Homo sapiens: one gene and its partners. The protein of the gene in region 3 interacts with the protein of the main gene of each other region in a biochemical or structural test. Each region holds a gene or a part of one and is shown on either strand. Other genes may lie near its edges. The genes, in order: LATS1, STRN4, MAP4K4 and SLMAP.

What was found.
Region 1: of the proteins of MAP4K4 (region 3) and LATS1, one has a biochemical effect on the other in vitro, tested with the Homo sapiens proteins (one study listed by BioGRID).
Region 2: the proteins of MAP4K4 (region 3) and STRN4 form a complex in vitro, tested with the Homo sapiens proteins (one study listed by BioGRID).
Region 4: the proteins of MAP4K4 (region 3) and SLMAP form a complex in vitro, tested with the Homo sapiens proteins (one study listed by BioGRID).

The regions. Positions count from the first base shown.
Region 1 is NC_000006.12:149,659,085-149,666,124, reverse strand, and holds part of LATS1 (serine/threonine-protein kinase LATS1), read left to right. Parts: intron 1-1,482; coding exon of another isoform or gene 1,483-1,605; exon of another isoform or gene 1,606-2,809; coding exon of another isoform or gene 2,810-2,908; exon of another isoform or gene 2,909-2,933; intron 2,934-3,886; coding exon 3,887-4,396; 3' UTR 4,397-7,040. UniProt on the Homo sapiens protein: Negative regulator of YAP1 in the Hippo signaling pathway that plays a pivotal role in organ size control and tumor suppression by restricting proliferation and promoting apoptosis.
Region 2 is NC_000019.10:46,722,420-46,729,459, forward strand, and holds part of STRN4 (striatin-4), read right to left. Parts: intron 6,359-7,040; coding exon 6,199-6,358; intron 5,589-6,198; coding exon 5,475-5,588; intron 5,273-5,474; coding exon of another isoform or gene 5,128-5,272; coding exon 5,033-5,127; intron 3,230-5,032; coding exon 3,054-3,229; intron 2,961-3,053; coding exon 2,913-2,960; intron 2,510-2,912; coding exon 2,388-2,509; intron 866-2,387; coding exon 695-865; intron 532-694; coding exon 391-531; intron 1-390. UniProt on the Homo sapiens protein: Calmodulin-binding scaffolding protein which is the center of the striatin-interacting phosphatase and kinase (STRIPAK) complexes.
Region 3 is NC_000002.12:101,889,707-101,895,190, forward strand, and holds the end of MAP4K4 (mitogen-activated protein kinase kinase kinase kinase 4), read left to right. Parts: intron 1-1,459; coding exon 1,460-1,543; 3' UTR 1,544-4,984; downstream 4,985-5,484.
Region 4 is NC_000003.12:57,759,295-57,766,334, reverse strand, and holds part of SLMAP (sarcolemmal membrane-associated protein), read right to left. Parts: intron 1-7,040. UniProt on the Homo sapiens protein: Associates with the striatin-interacting phosphatase and kinase (STRIPAK) core complex, forming the extended (SIKE1:SLMAP)STRIPAK complex.

The DNA of each region.
Region 1 (7,040 bases), on a different chromosome or scaffold from region 3:
CTCTGTCACCCAGGCTGGAGTGAGTGCAGTGGTGCGATCTCGGCTCACTACACCACCCAGGTTCAAGCGACTGTCCTGCCTCAGCCTCCCAGGTAGCTAGGACTACAGGCGTGTGCTACCATGCCCAGCTAATTTTTGTATTTTTAGTAGAGACGGGGTTTCACTATGTTGGCCAGGCTGGTCTCAAACTCCTGACCTCAGGTGATCTGCCTACCTTGGCCTCCCAAAGTGCTGGGATTACAGCGTGAGCCACCGTGCCCAGCCAAGATTCTGGATCTTATGGAGAATTTTGACCTTGTTTTGACAAGCATTAAACCCGGTTGGGTTCAGGCCACAAGTTCCAACCAGTCTTTTTTGATTTCAATGTCAGTTTCAAAGGCTTTTCCTTTCTAGGCAGATAGATCTCTTTGTAGGCTGTGGTCTTTTCCTTAGTTCAGTTCTCAAAGTCTTTGGTATGCTCCTTAGGATTAGATCCACATAGTTACAGTTTGGAGGGGGAGCCCAGCAGTTCATAAGCAACTTAATGGGGTCACTTGCCCAATCTCCTCCCTCTCTGTGATGTCCCCAGTACTTTCCTGTTCCCTGGGGCTCCCTATTTAGTTCTCTGACCAGAAAGTGAGGCTTTACTTATCCAACTCTGCCAATATCTCATAACTGCATCTGAATCCAGGACAAGGTGGCAAAAGGACACAGAGAGAAAACGAGCAACAGAGATTCAACCCATCTTCTTGGGACCCCATGCTTTATTAATTTATATATTTATGAGATATTGTCTCACTCTGTCACCCAGGCTGGAGTGCAGTGGCACAATCTTGGCTCACTGCAACCTCTGCCACCTGGGTTCAAGTGATTCTCCTGCCTCAGCCTCCCGGAGTAGCTGGGATTACAGGTATGCACCACCACACCCCACTAATTTTTGTATTTTAATAGAGACGGGGCTTCACCATTTTGGCCAAGCTGGTCTCGAACTCCTGACCTCAAGTGATCCACCCGCCTCGGCCTCCCAAAGTGCTGGGATTACAGGCGTGATGAGCCACTGCACCCAGCCCCATGCTTTGTTATTTTATTTACAATTGGAGAGGAAGGTTTGGCTGTCAGTTTTAGGTGCATACTGGCTCTTATTGCCACCTCCGTTGCTACCAGGAAACTCCTTTTCTACTCCCTGAGCCTGAACTAGAGGGAATTCTCCTAGAGCTCTCTGTGCTCAGCTTCTTCCAAGTTTTGGGCTACCTTGAGTCCAGCCTGCAGACTACTAGAGACAAAAAAATGGAGCTGGGTGTGCTGGCAGAGGCCTGTAGTCCCAGTTACTCGGGAGGCTGAGGTGGGAGGATTGCTTGAGGCTAGGAGTTCAAGACCAGCGTGGACAACATAGTGAGAATTAATTTTTTAAAAAAATAATTTTTTTTAAATGGTCACCAGGTTTAATGGTACTTCAAATTTACATCTTCTCCCCTAATCTACCTGTTATTATTTACTTTTCAGGATCTTGAAGTAGCTGCTTCCTGCATCCTGACCAGGTTTTATAGCTGCCTTCTGTGGGAGGGAGACAGGAGAGTATATGTAGTACATCTTCCTCAAAACTGGGACCTCTCTGGTTGCTTTTAGGGTTTTCTTCTCTTTAACTTTGGTTTTCTTCAGTTTGACCATGGTGTGCCTATGTGTAGTTTTCTTTGTATTTTTCTTGGTTGAGATTCACTCAGTTTCTTGAAATGTACATTAATGACTTTCATCGATTTGGGGAAATTCTCTGTCATTATCCCTTCAAAGATTTATTTTGCTTTCTTACCTTTTGAGACTCTAATGATTATACATGTGCTATTCCTTTGATACTGTCCTCCATTTCTCTTATGCTTTATTCTTTCTTTTATTCTACATGTTTTCTCTCTGTGCTTCAGTTTATATAATTTTATTCATCCATCTTTGAATTATCTGAATCTTTTGCTGTGCTCTTTTTTTTTTTTTTGCCTTAAACTGAAAAATCCTAAATATACCTTAAAATAAAAAATATTAAACTTGGCCAGGCACAGTGACTCACGCCTGTAATTATAGCACTTTAGGAGGCCAAGGTGGACAGATCACTTGAGGTCAGGAGTTTGAAACCAGCCAGGCCAACATGGTGAAACCCCGTCTCTACTAAAAATACAAAAAAATTAGCTGTGCGAGGTGGCGGGCACCTGTAATCCCAGCTACTCAGGAGGCTGAGGCAGGAGAATCGCTTGAAACCAGGAGGCAGAGGTTGCAATGAGCCGAGATCACGCCACTGCACTCCATCCTGGGCGACAGAGCAAGACTGTTTCAAAAAAAAAAAAAAATTGTTCATCTCATTGTGTATATTTTTTATTTCTCCTGTTTGAAATAAGTGATGAAACTGGAAGCATAAATAACTATTATTAACTGTATCATTTTTTTTTTCCAAAAAGGGTTTTTAAAATATTCTATTATTAGTTGAAGCCTCTCCATTTTCTAATCTGGGATAAGACTTTAAAAGGAACAAATAATAGACGAGGGAGTATATTTTTCTTCCCTCTATAGTAGCTGACTAGCTCCTCTACAAATAAGGAAGATTATACTGTTCATTTATTCAGCTTTTTAAAAAATATTTATTGACTGCCTACCATGCAACAAGTTGAAGATTTTTTTTCCCTCTTTTGAGACAGGGTCTTGCTCTGTCGCCCAGGCTGGAGTGCAGTGGCACAATCACGGCTCACTCTAGCCTCGACCTCCCTGGGCTCAGGTCATCCTCCCACCTCAAGTAGCTGGGACCACAGGTGTACACCACCAACCTGGCTAACTTTTGTATTTTTTGTAGATATGGGGTTTCACCATGTTGCCCAGGCTGGTCTTGAACTTCTGGGCTCAAGCAATTCATCTACCTCGGCCTCCCAAAGTGCTAGGATTACAGGTGTGAGCCACAGTGCCTGCCCAAGTTAAAGGTATCTAAACTTGGTTAAATGACAATGCATTCTACCACTTAACAGAGTTTGCCCCAAATCCATTTAATATCGTACTTGGAGTTGTATACCAATTCCCCTGCCTCCAAGAGTTCAGCGGGAGAGACTAGGTAGTCTTAGGTAGTCTGGCTTCACTTGGCATTCCTTTCTTCATCATTTCATTTTATTCATAACCAGAGATTTTTCTTTTTTTTTTTTTTTTTTTTTGGAGACAGTGTCTCGCTCTGTCACACAGGCTGGAGTGCAGTGGTGCAGTCATGGCTCACTGCAGCCTCAAACTCCTGGGCTCCAGGAATCCTTCTGCTTCAACCTCCTGAGTAGCTAGGACTACAGATGCATGCCACCATACCTGGCTAATTTTTAAAGTTTTTTTGTAGAGAGGGGGTCTCGCTTTGTTGCCCAGGTTTGTCTTGAACCTTCCCGGCTTCAAGCAGTCCTCCCACCTCCGCCTCCCAGGGTGCTGGGATTACAGGCAAAAGCCACCACGCTTGGCACCAGAAAAAGTTTTATCAAACATGTATTAAGTATGTGCCAGGCAATTTACTGAGCACTAGGAGATACAAAGACCACTAAAACATAATCCCTAGCCTTAATGGATATATTTCAGTAGGACATAAACATAAATAGGTACCACAAGCTATTAGAAATATGATAGAAATAAATATATGGTACAGGGGAGGCAGAGTAGAAGTAGTCACTTCTACCATAGGCCAAAAGGTTTACTAGGGGAGATTAAAACTGACAGTGAGTCTTATAATGTGAGTAGAAGTTGCTTGGAGAGGATGGGATAGGAGAAAAAATTATTTTCCAGCAAAATATCATGTAATTTATTTAAAATACAAAAATAGCCCAGTGAGACTTTTGGTATAAAACTTGAAGGAAATCTTTATTTTTCTAATTTATCTCTTCCCCCTAATTTTAAAAAATCTTTAAAGGTTATCAACTGGCAAACATCTCTTCACATTCCACCACAAGCTAAACTCAGTCCTGAAGCTTCTGATCTTATTATTAAACTTTGCCGAGGACCCGAAGATCGCTTAGGCAAGAATGGTGCTGATGAAATAAAAGCTCATCCATTTTTTAAAACAATTGACTTCTCCAGTGACCTGAGACAGCAGTCTGCTTCATACATTCCTAAAATCACACACCCAACAGATACATCAAATTTTGATCCTGTTGATCCTGATAAATTATGGAGTGATGATAACGAGGAAGAAAATGTAAATGACACTCTCAATGGATGGTATAAAAATGGAAAGCATCCTGAACATGCATTCTATGAATTTACCTTCCGAAGGTTTTTTGATGACAATGGCTACCCATATAATTATCCGAAGCCTATTGAATATGAATACATTAATTCACAAGGCTCAGAGCAGCAGTCGGATGAAGATGATCAAAACACAGGCTCAGAGATTAAAAATCGCGATCTAGTATATGTTTAACACACTAGTAAATAAATGTAATGAGGATTTGTAAAAGGGCCTGAAATGCGAGGTGTTTTGAGGTTCTGAGAGTAAAATTATGCAAATATGACAGAGCTATATATGTGTGCTCTGTGTACAATATTTTATTTTCCTAAATTATGGGAAATCCTTTTAAAATGTTAATTTATTCCAGCCGTTTAAATCAGTATTTAGAAAAAAATTGTTATAAGGAAAGTAAATTATGAACTGAATATTATAGTCAGTTCTTGGTACTTAAAGTACTTAAAATAAGTAGTGCTTTGTTTAAAAGGAGAAACCTGGTATCTATTTGTATATATGCTAAATAATTTTAAAATACAAGAGTTTTTGAAATTTTTTTGAAAGACAGTTTTAGTTTTATCTTGCTTTAACCAAATATGAAACATACCCCCTATTTTACAGAGCTCTTTTTTCCCCTCATAACCTTGTTTTTGGTAGAAAATAAGCTAGAGAAATTAAGCCATCGTGTTGGTGAGTGTTCCTAGGCTAATGATAATCTGTATAATTCACATCCTGAAACTAAGGAATACAGGGTTGAAAAAATATTAATATGTTTGTCAGAAGGAAAAATAATGCATTTATCTTCCCCCCCACCCCCCGCCCCATGGAATATTTAATCTATTTAATCTTCTTGCATTTATTTCTCAAGAATTACTGGCTTTAAAAGAAGCCAAAGCACTACTAGCTTTTTTTCCATATTGGTATTTTTGATGCTGCTTCCAATTTTAAAAGGGAACAAAGCTGCCATAAATCGAAATGTTCAATACTAAAAGCTAAAATATTTCTCACCATCCTAAGCAGATAATTATTTTAATTTTCATATACTTTTCCTGTATAGTAACTATTTTGATTATATCATCAATGTTACCTGTTTCCTCTTTCAGAACAGTGCTGCATATACAGATTGTTATTGGCAAAGGAAAATCTGGCTATCTGGCAATATTTTACCTAAGCGCAGATTAATTGGTGAAAAAATTAACTCTTAAGATGGCCATTAATAATTAGGAAAGTTTACAGAGTGGTCTTAGTAGAAAATTCAAGTCCTCCTAATTTATTTAAGGTTCAATAATGCGTTCAACATGCCTGTTATGTATAACGCTTAGGTTCTAAGGAAGATTAAGGTTTCATACCAAAATACATGTAGCTTATCTTTTAGGAAGGGGAAAAAGGCTCCATTTTGACCATAGTAAAATTTGTGTTGTGTTTTATTTCCTTTTCTTAAGCTCCACTGATAAGGGATTGTTTTTATCAAAAGTTACTATTTGTAGATTGGAGGCATAATTTTAGTGATTTTCATACTTTTAGCTTTCTTCGCATAAAAGCTAATTGAAACCGTATATGTAGTAAAATTAAAGGCAGAGCTGTTGCAGTTGAATTGGAGAGTTAGGGCAAAGAACACTTATTAGCCCACACTTCCCACCTTTCTACAGGTGGTCCTTTCAGAGCTCAGCCTGAAAACCCACTACTGTGTTATCGTGCGTCTTTTGGGGTTAGTGGTTCTTTTGAGAATCTGAAGGAAGCTGTGGACTCTTCCTAGAAAAAAAAACCACACATACACATACAATGTTGCATGCAGTTTCAAGGGATTTTGGACATATTGAAACCTATCACAGGCTGTAGGTTATGGACCTCTGTGCCATGAGAAAATTGATACATTAAACTAAGAACTTTGTTTTTAACTTACCAATCACTACTCAGCACATCTTATATAAGCTGATAATTTGTGATGGAAAAGGTCTGTAGCATGTGATATAAGGTGACCTTATGAATGCCTCTCTTGCTGGTACATTAAGTTGTTTTAATATATCATTTGGAGGGGACTGAAATGTTAGGCTCATTACAAGCTTGATACAGAAATATTTCTGAAGGATTTCTAATCAGAATTGTAAAACAATGTGCTATCATGAAATCGCAGTCTTCACCTCATGGTTCATGGAACATTTGGTTAGTCCCATAAAATCCTATGCAAAACAAAGTAGTTCAAGAATTTTTAGGTGGGTAGTCACATTTATAAGGTATTCCTCTTACTCTTTGGGCTTTTTCAGTCTGATTTATTTAAATTTTCATTTAGTTGTTTTACTTTTGGACTAAGGTGCAATACAGTAGAAGATAACTTTGTTACATTTATGTTGTAGGAAAACTAAGGTGCTGTCTCCTCCCCCTTCCCTTCCCACAAAATCTGTATTCCCCCTATTGCTGAAATGTAACAGACACTACAAATTTTGTATTCTTTTTTTGTTTTTTGTTTTGAGACAGGGTCTCACTCTGTCACCCAGGCTGGAGGGCAGTGGCGCTTCACAGCTCACTGCATCCTCAACCTTGGGGGCTCACGCAGTCCTCCCGCCTCAGCCTCCCAAGTAGCTGGGCATGCGCCACCAAGCCCAGCTAATTTTTGTATCTTTAGTAGAGATGGGGTTTCGCCATGTTGCCCAGGTTGGTGTGGAATTCCTGGGCTCCAGTTATATGCCCACCTCAGCCTCCCAAAGTGCTGGGATTACAGACGTGACCCACCGCGCCTGGCGCAAATATGTATTCTTTTAAAATTTCCTCTGATACTATAAGCTTTTTGCATTTATCTGAAGCAGTATACATGCCTTTGGTATCAGCAATTTTAACAGTTTGG
Region 2 (7,040 bases), on a different chromosome or scaffold from region 3:
ACAGCCCCTACACCAGCCTCTGCCTGGATGTCGAGGGGGGCTGGGCGAGGGCACTCCGGTCCCCGACCGCAGCGCTGGTTCTGCACAAGCAGCCCCTGGGCCCTGTTTTGGGGCGGGGGAAGAGGAATAACAAACATGAACACATTCCGCCACTCTACCAAGAGGGCCCGACGGGGCGGCCCTGACGCGCTCTCCCCACTCAGCCCCGCCAGTGCCCTGGCTGTGAGGGCCGGGGGCCCTCCACTGGGACCCAACTTCCTTCCTGCTCAGGGCCTGAGGGTGCAGGGGAGTCATCTGAGCTGACTGACAAGGGGTCGCCAAAGCCCCAGGAGGAAGTGGGGCCCAGAAGACACTGAGACCAATTCCATGAGCTGATGTCAGCCCCCTTACCGCTGCTGCCCCGGGACTCCAGCGTGAGGAGGGCACTGCCAACCTCCATGTCATACAAGACGGTGTCGCCAGAGCGGAAGGAGGCCACGATGTGGGCAGGCTCGGTGCTGGTGAAGGCCACTGAGGTGGGGACCCCGTGCTCTGAGGGCACAGGGAAGAGAAGGCTGCTGAATGGACCCTCAGACCCAGCCCTGCCCCAGGGTGGGGGACAGTGGGTGGGAGGCCTGGGGCCTCAGCAGGAACCACTCTGATAGCCTCCAGATCCCGCACAGCTCCAGGGTGAGGCACCGGGGCCCCCACTCACCGCTGGCTGTGGGGAAGGTGCAGAGGCAGGCCGGGCTGCTGCTGCTGGGGTCCCAGATGCGGACGGTGCCATCAGCAGAACAGGAGGCCAGGCGCTGGGAGGTGGGACTGAAGGCCAGGCCCCACACGGCGTCCCCGTGGCCCTCCAGGACGTGGCTCAGCACGCTTGGGTCTGCACCCACCGCAGGGAGGAAATGGGCTGTGTCAGGGCTGCCAGCTCCTCCCTGGACAGCCCAGAGCCCCAGCTCTGCCAAGCCCCAGGCAGCTGGGCTCCAATCACCCACGCACCCACTTCACACCTGGTGCCCCTCGGAACTGTCCACTGCCAGGACAGCCCGGCAGCTGCTCACACTGCCCACTAGCTCTCCAAGGAAGGTTCTAGGGCTCCAGAAGGCAGGGATTTCCCTCTATTCACAGCTGTCTCCCCAAGCAGGGCCCAGAAACTGGGAGCTCAATACAGAATTTTTCGGGCTCCATTAAGGAAGAAGGAACAGCATGGTTCTGTGGCCCCAGGAGCGGCACGCAGCCTGTGCTGGACAAGGGTTGGTCCCAACCCTGGCCCGAGCAGTCTTTTCAGCCCATGGCCAAGTGCATGGGCTTTGCCTGGTCTCTCCAAAGCCCCCTGGTCATTCAGAGGTCCAATCACTGCTTCCCTGGTTGCTGGAGTCCACACCAGCAGCTCTGGCCTGCTGACACCGAAAGTGTGGTGGCTAATGTAGCTGGGACCGATCCTGACCTTGTGCAGGTGAGCCTGTTCTCTAAAGTCTGTCCTCCCCTTGAGAGGAGACAAAGACCTCTGAACTCTGCCCAGACAAGGTGGAGCACAGGGCCAGGTGCATGATCAAGGAGGCAGAGCCGGGCGCAGTGGCTCATGCCTGCAATCCCAGCACTTTGGGAGGCCAAGGTGGGTGGATCACCTGAGGTCCGGAGTTCAAGACCAGCCTGGTCAACGTGGTGCAACCCTGTCTCTACCAAAAATACAAAAAATAGCTGGATATGGTGGTGCGTGCCTGTAATCCCAGCTACTCGGGAGGCTGAGGCACGAGAATCACTTGAACCCAGGAGGTAGAGGTTGCAGTAAGCCAAGATCACGCCACTGCATTCCAGCCTGGGTGACAGAGTGAGACTCTTTGTCTCAAAAAAAAAAAAAAAAAAAAAAAAAAGGCAGAGAACAGGGGGACAGATGTTGAACAGAAGTGACAGTCTGGTCACTTCCCTACTTAGGTCTTAGATGCTCCAAAGAGAAAGCCCCAACGCGCTCCAGCCTGGCCCAGCTAACTCCACCTTCTCTGCTTTCTCTGGACATGCCCTCCCCTCAACCACGCAGAGACCCTGGCGGATCCCCACACACAGAGTACACGGCATGGCAGAGCAGAGGCTGCCAGGGCCAGCCACGCCTGTGCATGGGCTGCTCCCAGCCTGGGCTGCCTCAGCACTGCCTTCTGGACGCCGGCTCACAGAGATTCTCAGGCAGCTTCACCACCTCCTCCCACAGCCATCATTCCCATCCCGGCTGGCTCGTCCCTTGGCCACGCGCTGCATCGCGCTGCTCACAACAGAGCAGACAGGGGAGCCGTCACACGCACTCCTGAGGCCTGCAGTGTTGGCAAGAGGTGGACGCGACGTGTGTGTGCGTGGAGGGGACGGCCAGGCCCCAGTGGATGTGAGGGGAAGGCGGGAGGCGTTGTCCTCACCGTAGCCATCATAGGGATCCATGCTGAGGTCTGGAATCTTCCAACTATGGATGCAGGCATCTGCCCCGCCACTGTAGCAGTATTCACTGTTGCTGCCCATAGCCACAGCCAACACTGGGCCCCTGGAAGGGACAAATATGTGGAAAGGGGGATGAGACAAGCTCAGGGCCTCCCCTGGCCACAGGACCTAAGTTCCCTACTAGCATTCTTCAAGGATGGCCAAAAGGAATTCAGTGACTGGGGCTCTGGCCATGCTACCTGGACAAGCTGCCTGTCCCCTGCCCTCCCCCACCCCACCTCCATCTCCTCCCCTGAAGGGCTGTGCTGAGTACCAGCTGCCAGGGCATGTGAAAGTCAGCATGGAGCCCCAAGAACCAGGGCTGTGTATATCATGAAGGGGGCGGGGACTCAGAGCCCCCTGCTGTCCTGCCTCCTGCCGTGGGCCTCCCGCGATGGCAGTGAGCAGGTCAGGAGTCAGGCTGCATTTAGGACGAGTTTCTAGCAGGCTCAGGGGCACCTCCCTACCTGTGAGCCCGGAAAGCATGTATAGGTTCCACATCTAGCGCCGCATTCCTGTGGGATGACAGAGGAGCCTGATGTCACTGAGACCCTGTCACCCCCGTCCCCAGATGCCCCTGCCCCCGGCTCTGAGCTTGCTGCCCTCACTTCTTGGCCGTGACCGCCTTCTGCAGGTTCCAGAGCTTGAGCGTGCCGTCCTCGGAGGCGGTGAGCAGAGCCGACTGGCTGTGGTGGAAGGCCAGGGAACGAATGCCGTCGTAGTGCGAGCGCAGGGTGAACTTGGGGTTCCACGTCTTCTTAAAAGCATCTTTGCTGTCAGACAGCTGGGGTTGGGGGGAGCTGCCTCAGTGTCTTCGCATCCATCCCAGCAGTCATGCAGACACCGACACCCAGGGCTTGAGGGCCCCTGTCTTCCACCCACATGACCCTGGCAGGAATGCCCTCAGAGCCTGGGCTCCAGCCGGGAACTCTCCCCTTCCTCTGCTGGGCAGAGTCTCCATGCTCGCCCAACAAGTCCCCACACTGCGCTGGGTTCTGGAGAGACAAAGGTGAGCCTGACCCCTTGGGGTCTTGCAGTTGAGAGGAAGGGGAATGGGGGACACAACTGGACCATCCCACAAGTGTGCAGGATCATCAGCCATGAGCAGGGCAATGAATTAAAGATGCACAGAGAGACATCAGGCAGCCTGCCCTCCTCCCTGGGGGCCACTGAGGCTTTCCTGAGGAAGCACGAGCCAGCAGGACTTCACAAGATAAGGAGAGGGCCCTGGAGAGGGAAAGGGCCCGTGCAGAGGCCCTGAGGCAGCAAGGGCGAGCCCAGGCCTGAGAGGTCAGTGGTACAGGCTGCAGGAGGCAAGGAGAGTGGCAGGGGATGAGACAGGTGCTGGGTGGTGAGCCCCGGAGGAATGCGCATTTCATCCTAAGAAAAAGCCTCAGAGAAACAAGGAGCCGGGGAAGTGTTTAGAGCAGGGGAACGACATGGCTTGTTCCTGCCACCCCTGAGAGGCTCAGATTAGGGGCAGGTAAAAGTAGCCACAGACGGGGCACAGTGGCTCACGCCTGTAATCCCAGAACTTTGGGAGGCCAAGGCAGAACGATCATTTGACCCCAGGAGTTCGAGACCAGCCTGGGTAACATAGGGAGATCCCCTCAAGGAGCAAAAAAAAAAAAAAAAGGTAGCCTCAGAGAAAGAGGTTGAGAGGCCAGGAAGTCCCAGGGGAGATGAGGGCATGGAGACCAGACACGTGACCATGAAGGGGAGGCAGTGCACAAGTGGGAGAGCTGTGGGGGCCTCTGTCCACCACGCTGCATGCGCCCTGGTGCCGCTCACCCAGCAGGGGACCCGGAGAGGGCCAGGTTCCGGAGAGATGACGAGCAGAGTACCAGGCAAGCCTCAGCACCATGCCCCAAGATGGGCTCCCAGCTGACGTCCCTGCCTTAGCTGTCCCTTCTGCCACAGTTCTTTAGGGTCAGAGGATCTGCTACTGTGTGGTTCACTCACCCCCTCCCCTAGCGGGGCTCAGAACACTGCACTTCCCCAAGATGAAATGACATCTTGGGGCGTGCAGAGGGACCCCATGGCACACTCCACTTCTCAGGCCTCTGCTCTGACCCCCCTTCCTGAATCTCACAGCAGTCCCCACCCAGCCTTACTAGGGTCACCAACACTGGAAATCCCATTCTGTCACAGTAAAATGTGCACATACACCCACACCAAAAGCTCCCAGCTGGCCAAAGGCTCCCAGCTGGCCAAAGGCTCCCAGATGGCCAGAGGCCCGTCCACTGAGGCCCGGAACATTTCATTTCAGCCCAGCTGCCCATTCACACTAGATTGGCCTGACTTGGCAGAGCAGGGGGTGGCTACAGGTCATCTTCCTGCATTCCAAATCACCAGGGTGGGAGGGGCAGAGTGGAGGAGCCGTGGAACTGTGATTAAAACACAGGCTCCAGAGTCTTCCAGGCCCTGCGCCTTGGCGACCGCAGTCAAGTCCCTCCACTGTCTACATCTGCACCCCTCTGTGAAACAGGATGAGCAGGGCACGGGCGGCACCCAGTCAGAGCTTGCAGGGGCTGGCCCTGGGCGCAATGCCAATGGGGACAGTGTGGGGGGCACCCGGAGAACTTACATCGCAGCTGAGGTCGTTGTCGTTGGTGACGGTGAGATCTGCCAAGTCCCCCAGGCTCACCTCCCCGCCCCCGATAGTGTCCATGATGAAGACGTCTGAGGAGAAGCCAAAGGAACCTGGTAGGGGGAGGGGAGGGAGGGGCAGAGAGGGCCAGGGAGAGAGAGAATGACAGAGAGAGGCAGAGAAAGAGATAAAGAGCAAGAGAGAGAGACGGGGAGAGGACAAGATGAAGAATCACAGCTGGAAAGAGACAGAGAGACAGACAGGGCAGGACAGACAAAAAGAGAGGGAGACAGACAGACAGACGAACTTTTGGGGCAGGGAGGCTGCAGACTGGAGGCTGGGCCTCGACCCTGAAGACACAGAAGCCCTGGGCTCAGCTCTGCAGCCTCCCTCTGCCATGGGCCCGCAGGACTGGGACCAGGTGGGGGGTGCCTCTTACCTTCATGTGGCCGGGGCTGGGGTGTGCCAGGAGGCGGGCCAGTCACTTTTGGGGGCAGCCCATCCACATCCCGCAGGTCAGCCAGAATGCCTTGGAGTTTGACCCGACGGCTTTCTGCAGGGTCGAGGCATAGGGCCGGAGTCACCCAGCAGTTCCAACCCAGTCTGGCATAGGTGACGCCTTCCCCACACTGAGGGCCCCCTGCCACTCTGTGGGGCTGTGAAGCTCTGGCCCTGGGGGAGGGGGGGAATGGGCAGAGGAGAGGAGGTTGATTGGGCCCCTCCGTGGGGCAGTGGGCAGGTCACTGCCTTGCCTAGGCCTCAGGCCCCAGCCACCCATCCCACGTATCCTGAGAGCCCTCCTAGCTAGGAGTCACAGGACAGGGAGGAAGATGCGGCCCTCCCACCTGCCTCTCCCCGACTGGGTCCTCATCCTGTTCCCTCCTTGAGGCCAGCCAGAGCTGGACGCCCGCCCTGGAGGGCTGGCGGCCCCACTTCAGGAAGAGCCAGGACTGCCTGCGTCTCCATGGGGATTTTCCAGGGAAGGGGTGAGGGGCCGGCGGCCATGACCTGGGCCTCCTGCTCTCCTTGGCTACCCTCCTCTCAGGAAACATATCCGTCCGGTAGAGAGACCCTGTACAGGAAGCAGCTGCGGGCAGCTGAGCCTGCTCCCACCCCCTCGGTGGGGAAGGCAAGCGGGGGCTGGCCAGAAAACGTCAGCTCACCCAGCTCATGGGGGCTCCCATCCACAGTGCACCGCCGAGGGTCTGGAGCCCCTTCCCCATCCTCTCCTGAGCCCAGGAAATCAAACTCATTGATAGCATCCTCAGAGTCGTCTTCCTCATCCTCGTCTTCCATTTCGGGCACCAGAGCCTTGGATGGGAGCTGGCACATGGAGAAAGCCAGACAAGTCAGGGGGCCTCTTGTCCAGAGACTAAGCCACCTCCGTGCCTAGGAACAGGTAAGCCGGGGCTCTGGGCCCGTTTCTGTTCATGGGGCTGCCTCAGCCGCCAGCCAGCTGCCCTGGAGCGCCCCCTGCTGGGCCTTGGACAGCTGCTACCACTAGGGCCGGTCGGCCTGACCCCACCCTCACGCAGTCCTTCCCCTAGCCAGGGCTCAGCCTGCTCCAGTCCCCCAGCAAGGTGCCTCGGATGAAGAAAAGTCAGATAATGCAACAATCTGCCTGCAGGGAGGGCAGATATGCACTGGTGTCCGTGTGTGAATATACGGAGGTGCAAACAAGTGAGGATGAATGGACCACAGCATTGCAGCGATAAACACAGCACCAGCAGCCGTGCTGGCACAAGAGCAAATTCCACTCACTGAATGACCACTGACTACCCCTCGCAGACACGACTTCACTTAACCCCCAACCCTGCGAACAGCTACCGTGAACACTGTCATTATCATTCCCACATTACAGGCCAGGAGACAGGCTGAGCAGCAGGAACCCACTTGCCCTAGGTCACCAAGGCCAAGCTCTGCCCACTGTGAACTCCTCCAGGGCGTGGCTGACCCCTTCCACATGTCAGCCCCCCAGGCTGAGTTTGGCGACACCTCTCGGGCA
Region 3 (5,484 bases):
CTTTGAAACTTGGCCCTGAAGAACGTTTCCACCTTTTGCGTCACATTGACAGACTAGCAGTCAGCCCAGTTCTCAGATTTAAACATTTAGTCATTTAATGCAAGAAAGAAGAAGCTACACATATGTCCTTGGCAGCTGGTCCTGCTTGCCCGATACATCCCAAACACAAAGTCACTTCACCTCTACCCACTGTCTTCTGCAACCCTACAACTCAGTTTCAAGTGGAGTTTTGCCTACAGATTATCTCCCAAATCTGTGACCTTGAAAATCTCTACAGCTCAGACCTAATCCAGGATTTTGTCAGCTTGTTGGCTTATACTTTCCTAAGTATGTTTACCATAGCTGCAACTATAGCATTCTTTGAATTTCAGGCATTTAAATATTTTTATCATGCATGTCATGTCCTTTAAGATTTATTAATAAATGGCACAAAAATTCTATTTATGGGTTATATGAAGTAATTAATACATTTTTTGTTGATTTTTAAAAAGAAATTAGGTTGTTAAGGAGTCTTCCGTGATGCTCATTGTGTTTTTTAAAGACATTTATTTATTAGAAGGTGTTAACAGTAGAAGTGGAAAGAAATAACTTCAGAAACATCCATTTTTTTCCTTTGTTGTCTCACAATATGCCAACGTGTAAGGAGTTAGTAGTAACAAGCCTGAGTTGTAATAAAAATTGGCTGCAGATGGTCACTCCTTACAAATTATAAATTGATAATTGCCCCAGAGGTTTTTGTGGGTTGTTTTTGTTTGTTTGTTTGTTTTGGTGACGGAGTCTTGCTCTGTCGCCCAGGATGGAGTGCAGTGGCGTGATCTCGGCTCACTGCAACCTGAACCTCCTGGGTGCAAGCAATTCTCTTCCTCAGCCTCCTGAGTAGCTGGGATTACAGGAGCCCACCACCATGCCCAGCTAATTTTTTGTGTTTTTAGTAGAGATGCGGTTTCACTATCTTGGCCAGGCTGGTCTTGAACTCCTGACCTCATGGTCCGCCTACGTCGGCCTCCCAAAGTGCTGGGATTACAGGCATGAGCCACCATGCCCAGCCTTTTTATTTATTTATTTATTTTTTGAGACAGAGTCTTGCTCTGTTGCCCAGGCTGGAATGCAGTGGTGTGACCTTGGCTCACTGCAGCCTCCACCTCCCGGGTTCAAGTGATTCTCATGCCTCAGCCTCCTGAGTAGCTGGGATTACAGGTGTGTGCCACCACATGGTATTTTTAGTAGAGATGGGTTTTGTCATGTTGGCCAGACTGGTCTGGAACTCCTGGCCTCCCAAAGTGCTGGGATTACAGGTGTGAGCCACTGCACCTGGCCTCAGAGTTTCTTTTGAAAAGGCTCTTTGGGAGTCTAAGCTTCTCGTACTTGACAGTGTTGAGGATGATGGTGGCTTAGATTCCCTGGCTGGAAGTGCTTCATGACCATGGTAACCATTCCCTCTCTTTTCTTGCTTTTGCAGGTGTTCTTTGCCTCTGTTCGGTCTGGTGGCAGCAGTCAGGTTTATTTCATGACCTTAGGCAGGACTTCTCTTCTGAGCTGGTAGAAGCAGTGTGATCCAGGGATTACTGGCCTCCAGAGTCTTCAAGATCCTGAGAACTTGGAATTCCTTGTAACTGGAGCTCGGAGCTGCACCGAGGGCAACCAGGACAGCTGTGTGTGCAGACCTCATGTGTTGGGTTCTCTCCCCTCCTTCCTGTTCCTCTTATATACCAGTTTATCCCCATTCTTTTTTTTTTTCTTACTCCAAAATAAATCAAGGCTGCAATGCAGCTGGTGCTGTTCAGATTCTACCATCAGGTGCTATAAGTGTTTGGGATTGAGCATCATACTGGAAAGCAAACACCTTTCCTCCAGCTCCAGAATTCCTTGTCTCTGAATGACTCTGTCTTGTGGGTGTCTGACAGTGGCGACGATGAACATGCCGTTGGTTTTATTGGCAGTGGGCACAAGGAGGTGAGAAGTGGTGGTAAAAGGAGCGGAGTGCTGAAGCAGAGAGCAGATTTAATATAGTAACATTAACAGTGTATTTAATTGACATTTCTTTTTTGTAATGTGACGATATGTGGACAAAGAAGAAGATGCAGGTTTAAGAAGTTAATATTTATAAAATGTGAAAGACACAGTTACTAGGATAACTTTTTTGTGGGTGGGGCTTGGGAGATGGGGTGGGGTGGGTTAAGGGGTCCCATTTTGTTTCTTTGGATTTGGGGTGGGGGTCCTGGCCAAGAACTCAGTCATTTTTCTGTGTACCAGGTTGCCTAAATCATGTGCAGATGGTTCTAAAAAAAAAAAAAAAAAAAAAAAAAAAAGGAAAAAAAAAAAGAAAAAGAAAACGTGTGCATTTTGTATAATGGCCAGAACTTTGTCGTGTGACAGTATTAGCACTGCCTCAGTTAAAGGTTTAATTTTTGTTTAAACCTAGACGTGCAACAAAAGTTTTACCACAGTCTGCACTTGCAGAAGAAAGAAAAAAATTCAAACCACATGTTTATTTTTTTTTTGCCTACCTCATTGTTCTTAATGCATTGAGAGGTGATTTAGTTTATATGTTTTTGGAAGAAACCATTAATGTTTAATTTAATCTTAATACCAAAACGACCAGATTGAAGTTTGACTTTTATTGTCACAAATCAGCAGGCACAAGAACTGTCCATGAAGATGGGAAATAGCCTTAAGGCTGATGCAGTTTACTTACAAGTTTAGAAACCAGAATGCTTTGTTTTTACCAGATTCACCATTAGAGGTTGATGGGGCAACTGCAGCCCATGACACAAGATCTCATTGTTCTCGATGTAGAGGGGTTGGTAGCAGACAGGTGGTTACATTAGAATAGTCACACAAACTGTTCAGTGTTGCAGGAACCTTTTCTTGGGGGTGGGGGAGTTTCCCTTTTCTAAAAATGCAATGCACTAAAACTATTTTAAGAATGTAGTTAATTCTGCTTATTCATAAAGTGGGCATCTTCTGTGTTTTAGGTGTAATATCGAAGTCCTGGCTTTTCTCGTTTTCTCACTTGCTCTCTTGTTCTCTGTTTTTTTAAACCAATTTTACTTTATGAATATATTCATGACATTTGTAATAAATGTCTTGAGAAAGAATTTGTTTCATGGCTTCATGGTCATCACTCAAGCTCCCGTAAGGATATTACCGTCTCAGGAAAGGATCAGGACTCCATGTCACAGTCCTGCCATCTTACTTTCCTCTTGTCGAGTTCTGAGTGGAAATAACTGCATTATGGCTGCTTTAACCTCAGTCATCAAAAGAAACTTGCTGTTTTTTAGGCTTGATCTTTTTCCTTTGTGGTTAATTTTCCTGTATATTGTGAAAATGGGGGATTTTCCCTCTGCTCCCACCCACCTAAACACAGCAGCCATTTGTACCTGTTTGCTTCCCATCCCACTTGGCACCCACTCTGACCTCTTGTCAGTTTCCTGTTCCTGGTTCCATCTTTTTGAAAAAGGCCCTCCTTTGAGCTACAAACATCTGGTAAGACAAGTACATCCACTCATGAATGCAGACACAGCAGCTGGTGGTTTTGTGTATACCTGTAAAGACAAGCTGAGAAGCTTACTTTTTGGGGAAGTAAAAGAAGATGGAAATGGATGTTTCATTTGTATGAGTTTGGAGCAGTGCTGAAGGCCAAAGCCGCCTACTGGTTTGTAGTTAACCTAGAGAAGGTTGAAAAATTAATCCTACCTTTAAAGGGATTTGAGGTAGGCTGGATTCCATCGCCACAGGACTTTAGTTAGAATTAAATTCCTGCTTGTAATTTATATCCATGTTTAGGCTTTTCATAAGATGAAACATGCCACAGTGAACACACTCGTGTACATATCAAGAGAAGAAGGAAAGGCACAGGTGGAGAACAGTAAAAGGTGGGCAGATGTCTTTGAAGAAATGCTCAATGTCTGATGCTAAGTGGGAGAAGGCAGAGAACAAAGGATGTGGCATAATGGTCTTAACATTATCCAAAGACTTGAAGCTCCATGTCTGTAAGTCAAATGTTACACAAAAAAAAATGCAAATGGTGTTTCATTGGAATTACCAAGTGCTTAGAACTTGCTGGCTTTCCCATAGGTGGTAAAGGGGTCTGAGCTCACACCGAGTTGTGCTTGGCTTGCTTGTGCAGCTCCAGGCACCCGGTGGGCACTCTGGTGGTGTTTGTGGTGAACTGAATTGAATCCATTGTTGGGCTTAAGTTACTGAAATTGGAACACCCTTTGTCCTTCTCGGCGGGGGCTTCCTGGTCTGTGCTTTACTTGGCTTTTTTCCTTCCCGTCTTAGCCTCACCCCCTTGTCAACCAGATTGAGTTGCTATAGCTTGATGCAGGGACCCAGTGAAGTTTCTCCGTTAAAGATTGGGAGTCGTCGAAATGTTTAGATTCTTTTAGGAAAGGAATTATTTTCCCCCCTTTTACAGGGTAGTAACTTCTCCACAGAAGTGCCAATATGGCAAAATTACACAAGAAAACAGTATTGCAATGACACCATTACATAAGGAACATTGAACTGTTAGAGGAGTGCTCTTCCAAACAAAACAAAAATGTCTCTAGGTTTAGTCAGAGCTTTCACAAGTAATAACCTTTCTGTATTAAAATCAGAGTAACCCTTTCTGTATTGAGTGCAGTGTTTTTTACTCTTTTCTCATGCACATGTTACGTTGGAGAAAATGTTTACAAAAATGGTTTTGTTACACTAATGCGCACCACATATTTATGGTTTATTTTAAGTGACTTTTTATGGGTTATTTAGGTTTTCGTCTTAGTTGTAGCACACTTACCCTAATTTTGCCAATTATTAATTTGCTAAATAGTAATACAAATGACAAACTGCATTAAATTTACTAATTATAAAAGCTGCAAAGCAGACTGGTGGCAAGTACACAGCCCTTTTTTTTGCAGTGCTAACTTGTCTACTGTGTATTATGAAAATTACTGTTGTCCCCCCACCCTTTTTTCCTTAAATAAAGTAAAAATGACACCTATTTTATGTGGCATGAGTTTCGAATATGTTCTGACCCTTCAGAATGTTTCCTTCCTGTGAGGATCCATATTTTATGCATACCTGCCTACCCTGAGCTTCCCGTACCAGAGCAGGCTCCTGTATTTTGCTATTTCAGATGACAGGGGCTTGCCCAAGGCCAGGTATAGATTACAAAAGTAGCAAATGTTTGTCTAAAGACCTCAGAGATGAAGTGGGAGATGAACCTCCATCACCAGGTTCCTGAAGACAGTATGGAGTAAAGCTGGTCCTTAAAGAAATGTCACATTTTTGCAGTTTTGAATTTGGATCAAAAAATACAACAGCATGATGTCTGTAATAGGTCAATTAAAGTAGCTCTTTCTCAGTTTGGTGCATAAATACTAACTTGGGTTTAATAATTGGAGCCCCTTCAATGTAAGGTCATTGTGTCTTCAGCGCTGGGGTTCCCCATCAACCCCCCCATAGGCCTGGTAGGCATGATCGCCGTCGGGCAAATCTGGG
Region 4 (7,040 bases), on a different chromosome or scaffold from region 3:
TAAGAAAACCAGACAGGTAGACTGGGTGTGGTGGCTCACGCCTGTAATCCCAGCACTTTGGGAGGCTGAGGCAGGCGGATCACGAGGTCAGGAAATCGAGACCATCCTGGCTAACACGGTGAAACCCTGTCTCTACTAAAAATACAAAAAAAAAAAAAAAAAAAAAAAATTAGCCGGGTGTGGTGGTAGGCGCCTGTAGTCCCAGCTACTCAGGAGGCTGAGACAGGAGAATGGCGTGAACCCGGGAGGCGGAGCTTACAATGAGCCGAGATCGCGCCACTGTATTCCAGCCTGGGCAACAGAGCAAGACTCCGTCTCAAAAAAAAAAAAAAAAGAAAGAAAATCAGACAGAAGCCTAAAAGGGCAAAGAGTGAATTTAACCTAAGGAGTAATGTCAAAGAACTAAGTGGGAAAAAAAATGCTTTAAGTATATACACTGTCGATATTTTTAACAATTTGAAATCACAGATAAAATATTTTATCAATTTCCCACTATTATGAAAAATAATATAGAGGGAAATGAACATGTGCTTTAAAGATATAATCTGGCTTCCTATACATGTTCACATTATGTGTCTTAAATACAACTTGTCAAGTAAAAGACTTTCTCACAAACACCAGCACCCCTTAATGATCTTTATACTTCTGTCAACAAAAAACTTAAGTATCTGTTAAAACAAACATACAAACAAATAAAAAGTAAAAGAATGTATGACCTGCCATTCTCCCAAAAGCTGAGGCTAGGATCTTTGTGGTCATGTTTAGATGTGTGGAGGAAAAAAGAAGAAACAATCTTGGTTGTCAAATTCAGCAGGCTCTTCACAATGTCTTCCTTACAATGTCCTTGGAACATGCCGTATCATCCCTGCTTCTTCCTCCCACCCAAAACTCCTTTCCCTGACTGACCCTAACTACAATCTATCCCTTAACCCCATATTTTTTTTTAAGATGGGTCTCACTATGTCACCCAGGCTAGAGCAATCATAGTGCACTATAGCCTTGAACTCCTGGCCTAAGTGATCCTCCTGTTTCATCCTCCCAAATAGGTGGGGCTACAGACCTGATGCACCCCTGGCAAATACAAGTTTTTGAACTTTTTGTTTTTTAGAGACAAATTATTGCTATGATGCAAAGGCTGCAGTGCAGTGGATTTTCACAGGTGCAATTTTGGCATACTACAGCCTCAAACTCCTGGCCTCAAGCAATCTTCCAGACTCAGCCTCCCAAGTAGCTGATATTACAGGCATTTGCCACTGTTCCTGGCCATTCTTCCTCTTTTTAAAAGTCCTAAGGTCTAGTTTAAATTGGATTTCATCCATGAAACTGTTTCATCCATTAAACTTTCCCTAAAGTCTTCAGTTCACACAGGACCTTGCGCTTTGCCGAAGTCCTAATGTGCAAGTTAATTTAATACTCTTATCTTTTTTCATTTTCTGGCATTTAATCATTTTCATTCCTACTGTTAACCTGGTCTATGCCCTCACAAAATCACATCATATCTAAAGTGTTATAAAGCCTTTAGAATAGCACAGTGGTTATGAGCTTGAGTTTAAATCTCAATTCTACCATTTAATAGCTAGGTGAACTTGACCAAGATCTCTCTGTGCCTCAATTTCCTCACAGGTCAATGCAGAAAAAACAAGCACCTCAAAGAGTTACTTGAAGATTAAATAAGTTAACAAGTAAAGCATTTAGAATAGGGCCCAGTATATAGTTAGTACAAAAGTGTTATTTAAGCTGTTACCCATTTTTCCTTGCTCCAGGCAACTCTACATACTGCTATTGTATCACTATTGTATCACTCTTTCTTTCTTTTCTTTTCTTTTTTTTTTTGAGATGCAGTCTCCCTCTGTTGCCCATGTTGGAGTGCAAAGATGGGATCTCTGCTCACTGCAACCTCCGCTTCCTGGGTTCAAGTGATTATCCTGCCTCAGCCTCACAAGTAGCTGGGATTTCAGGTTCATGCCACCACACTTGGTTAATTTTTGTATTTTTCGTAGAGGTGGGGTTTCACCATGTTGGCCAGGCTGGTCTCAAACTCCTGACCTCAGGTGATCCACCCATCTCGGCCTCCCAAAGTGCTGGGATTACAGGTGTGAGCCACCGCACCCGGCCCACTCTTTCTTAAACAGGGGTTTGGTATGTCAGTGCTCTGCTCAGAACTCTCGTAGGCCTTCCATAACCCAAGGGTCCACATCCTAAGCTTGGTAAGCAAGGCACTTCACAACCTGGCACCACACTATCTAGTCAGCTTCATTTATTCAACAACTACTTTATACAAGATAGTAGGAAAACGTTCCTGTCTTCCAGAGTGTGAAAATTAATTACAAAGACAAGGCACAAACAAGAACATCACACAGAATAGATGTGCACCCTTGGCTACTCTTCAAAGAACTCTCTAATCCAACAAAGTCAGTTTCCTCAGCATTTGGAAAATGCAAAGCTCATTCAAAATTATCTGCTTTTTATTCCATCCTCATCCCCACAAAAAAAATAAAAATAACCAAAAAAACACCTTTTCTTATCTATCCACCCCTAATTTTAAAGTCAAATGTCATTATTCTTTTGCCATTGAAACTTACATAATATCACCTATCTCAACTATTTTCAAAGTGCACTGTCACCCTCTCTATCCAATGTAAAAGTTCCTAGAAAGAAGAAATAACAAATCCTCATCAGTTTGTCATTTTCTCCCCCTTTACCACTATGCCCTTCACTAAAACAAATCATGATAGAACAGGTGCTCAAAAAGATGCACTAGGCCGGGCGCGGTGGCTCACACCTGTAATCCTAACTCTTTAGGAGGCCGGGGCGGGTGGATTGCCTAAGCTCAGGAGTTCGAGACCAGCTTGTGCAACATGGTGAAACCCCGTTTCTACTAAAATAAAAAACAGTAGCTGGGCGTGGTAGTGTGTGCCTATAATCCCAGCTACTCAGGAAGCTGAGACAAGAGAATTGCTTGAACCCAGGAGGCAGAGGTTGCAGTGAGCCGAGATCACACCATTGCACTCCAGCCTGAGTGACAGAGCGAGACTCCATCTCAAAAAAAAAAAAAAAGATGCACTAAGTTTAAATTAAACGTGAGACTAGAAGTAGACAACTACTACCACTAGTAAGTAAACTTCAGTGAAACTGGAAATAGACTACTATGTCAACCACTAGCATGTCACCGGTACCCCAAAGCCTCAAATCAAATAGGGCCATCCAAATCACAAGAGTTCACTCACTATCCTTTCTATGTAACCACTATATGGGTAGATCTGCTTGCTCAGTGGTGCCTTGAATCAACAGAGGAATTAATAACCATTCTAGGCTGGGCACCGTGGCTCACACTTGTAATCCTAGCACTTTGGGAGGCCGAGGCAGGCAGATCACCTGAGGTCAGGAGTTCATGACCAGCGTGGCCAAATGGTGAAACCCTGTCTCTACTAAAAATACAAAAAATTAGCCAGGCATCTGGGCATGGTGGCTCATGCCTGTAATCCCAGCTACTTGGGAAGCTGAGGCAGAAGAATCACTTGAACCCAGGAGGGAGAGGTTGCAGTGAGCCGAGATTGCGCCACTGCACTCCAGCCTGGGAGACAGGGCAAGACTCCGGCTCAAAAAAAAAAAAAAAAAAAAAAACCATTCTACTATCTGCCATCTAATTTGAAGAGCTTGACTTCCGAAAAGGATGAAGGATAATACACAGGGCCAGCATCCAACAAGGCAATATCCAACTGCTACATTACTGAGAAGATGATTTGGTAAAGATTATGAAACTCTGCTTTGTGCCAAACCTGTCACCCTTCAACATGCAGATTTAAGTATTATACAATAAGATATTCCATGAGCTTAGCATTAAAAAGTGTCACTTAGATTTCCACCTGCCTACATTTTGCAGATATTCTAAAATGAACATGTATCATTTGAATAATCATAAAGTTTCAAGTGTTTATTATTTCTTCCAACTTTTTTTTTTTTTTTGAGACAGAGTCTCACATTGTCACCCAGGCTGGAGTGCAGTGGCGCGATCTCAGCTCACTGCAACCTCCGCCTCCCGGGTTCAAGCAATTCTCCTGCCTCAGCCTTCCCGAGTAGCTGGGATTGCAGGCACATGCCACCATGCCCAGCTAATTTTTTGTATTTTTCGTAGAGACAGGGTTTCACCGTGTTAGCCAGGATGATCTCGATCTCCTAACCTCGTGATCCGTCTGCCTCAGCCTCCCCAAGTGCTGGATTACAGGCATGAGCCACCAAGCCTGGCCTATTTCTTCCAACTTTTTTTTTTTTTTTTTTTTTGAGACGGAGTCTCGCTCTGTCGCCCAGGCCGGACTGCGGACTGCAGTGGCGCAATCTCGGCTCACTGCAAGCTCCGCTTCCCGGGTTCACGCCATTCTCCTGCCTCAGCCTCCCGAGTAGCTGGGACTACAGGCGCCCGCCACCGCGCCCGGCTAATTTTTTGTATTTTTAGTAGAGACGGGGTTTCACCTTGTTAGCCAGGATGGTCTCGATCTCCTGACCTCATGATCCACCCGCCTCGGCCTCCCAAAGTGCTGGGATTACAGGCGTGAGCCACCGCGCCCGGCCTTCTTCCAACTTTTAATGAGCCTCCCATAATGGACAATGCAGAATGCAACAGTCACCACAAAGTGAAAGTCACCCAAAGCACATATTACCCCAATTGTCGACCGCCCAGGTAAACTGCCAATTTAGACAAAGTTATCAACTACATCAGTTTCAATTTTAAAAATTTCTTCTGGCCAAGCACAGTGGCTCATGCCTGTAATCCTAGCACTTTGGGAGGCCGAGGCAAGTGGATCACCTGAGGTCAGGAGTTTGAGACCAGCCTGGCCAACATGGTGAAACCCTGTCTCCACTAAAAATACAAAAATTAGCCAGGCATGGTGATGAATGCCTGTAATCTCAGCTACTTGAGAAGCTGAGGTAGGAGAATCTCTTGAATCCAGAAGGTATAGGTTGCAGTGAGCTGAGATCGCACCACTGCACTCCAGCCTGGGTGACAGAGCCAGACTCCGTCTCAAAAAAACAAAAAACAAAAACAAAAACAAAATTTATTCTATATATGCCATCACATTAAAGAAAATAATTTCTCATCACCTTCCTAAGACTCCATAGCACTATAGCAAATTGCACAGTGTTGTCTAAATAGTTCCCTCTTCCCCACTAAACACCCTCTCTGCTGAGTATTGGGTGCTTAGTAAGAGCCAGGGACAGGGTGCTAAGTGATTTATATAATTACCTCAATTCTCAAAACAATAATAGGTACCATTATCATCCCCAGATGTTTAAAAAAAAAAAAAAACCTGGCCGGGCGCGGTGGCTCATGCCTGTAATCCCAGCACTTTGGGAGGCTGAGGTGGGTGGATCACCTGAGGTTGGGAGTTCAAGACCAGCCTGACCAACATGGAGAAACCCTGTCTCTACTAAAAACTCAAAATTAGCCACGCGTGGTGGCGCATGCCTGTAGTCCCAGCTACTCGGGAAGCTGAGGCAGGAGAATCACTTGAACCCAGGAGGGAGAGGATGTGGTGAGCCAAGATCGCGCCATTGCACTCCAGCCTGGGCAACAAGAACGAAACTCCTTCTCTGAAGGGATTCTTTTTTTTTTTTTAAGAGACAGGGTCTTGCTTTGATACCCAGGCTGGAGTGCAGTGGCATAATCACAGCACTGCAACCTCAAACTCCTGGGCTCAAGCAACCCTCGTGCCTCAGCATCCCGAGTAGGTGGGACTACAGACACTGCAAATTTCATACGAGAACTATTTGGTCGCACTGTGGGTTTTCTTTGGAACTGTATCCCTCACAGTGTCTGGCACATAATAGATGCTCAATTAAAACCTACTATCTGTCCAAACCAAAACTTTAAATAGTTAATTCCTAAAACAATTCAATGACATGGTAAGATCTGACAGAGCATCCGCTATAACTAGATTAAGTGGTATAATAATCAATAATTACATCTATATCTAAAGTAGTGGTCTCATAGCCTGCGTGTTATTTTAGCTAATAAAGCAGGAGGAAAAAAGTGAAAATGGTAGAAATAAGCCATATCTACCATTCAAAGATAAGTTTTTCTGAAGAACTAATTTCATGGCCGGGTGTGGTGGCTTATGCCTGTAATTCCAGCACTTTGGGAGGCCGAGGAGGGTGGATCACTTGAGGTCAGGCGTTCAAGACCACCCTGGCCAACATGGTGAAACCCAGTATCTACGAAGAATATAAAAATTAGCTGGGCATGGTGGCATGCGCCTGTGATCCCAGCTACTCAGGAGGCTAAGACACAAGAATCGCTTGAACCCAGGAGGCAGACGTTGCAGTGAGCTGAGGTTGCGCCACTGCACTCTAGCCTGGCCACAGAGCGAGACTCCATCTCAAAGAAAAAAAACAAATATTAACATGTCATCTCAATTCATGAAACAGTCACTACTGACCTATTCTTAGTTATCTCAAAATAACCTATTGTGAGAGTTTTAGTACAGCCATGGAAAGCACTGGGCATGAAATCAGTATTTTTCAAATAAGTAAAACAAAAAATGGGAGTCCCCTTCGAGTGTTTCATCAAAGAAAGTGCATTCGCAGAGTATGTACTGTGAGCCAACCTGTTGTCTGATTAGTTTAGACCTGTTGCCCAAGAACATAAAATGGTGAAAATGTAAAAGCTGGTTGAGTTAAGGCACTACTTAGTAGTAAACTGATGTTTGAATTCAACTGCTGGAAAAATGAGTTCTATGAATATTCATTTTAAAGAATTATGAGGGCCAGGTGCAGTGGCTCACGCCTGTAATCCCAGCACTTTGGGAGGTTGAGGCAGGTGGATCAACTGAGGTCAGGAGTTCAAGACCGCCTGGCCAACATGGTGAAACCCTGTCTCTACTAAAAATACAAAATTAACCAGGCATGGTGGCGTGTGCCTGTAATACCAGCTACTTTGGAGGCTGAGGCAGGAGAATCACTTGAACCCGGGAGGCAGAGGTTGCAGTGATCTGAGATAGCGCCACTGCACTCCAGCCTGGGTGACAGGAGCAAAAATCTGTCTC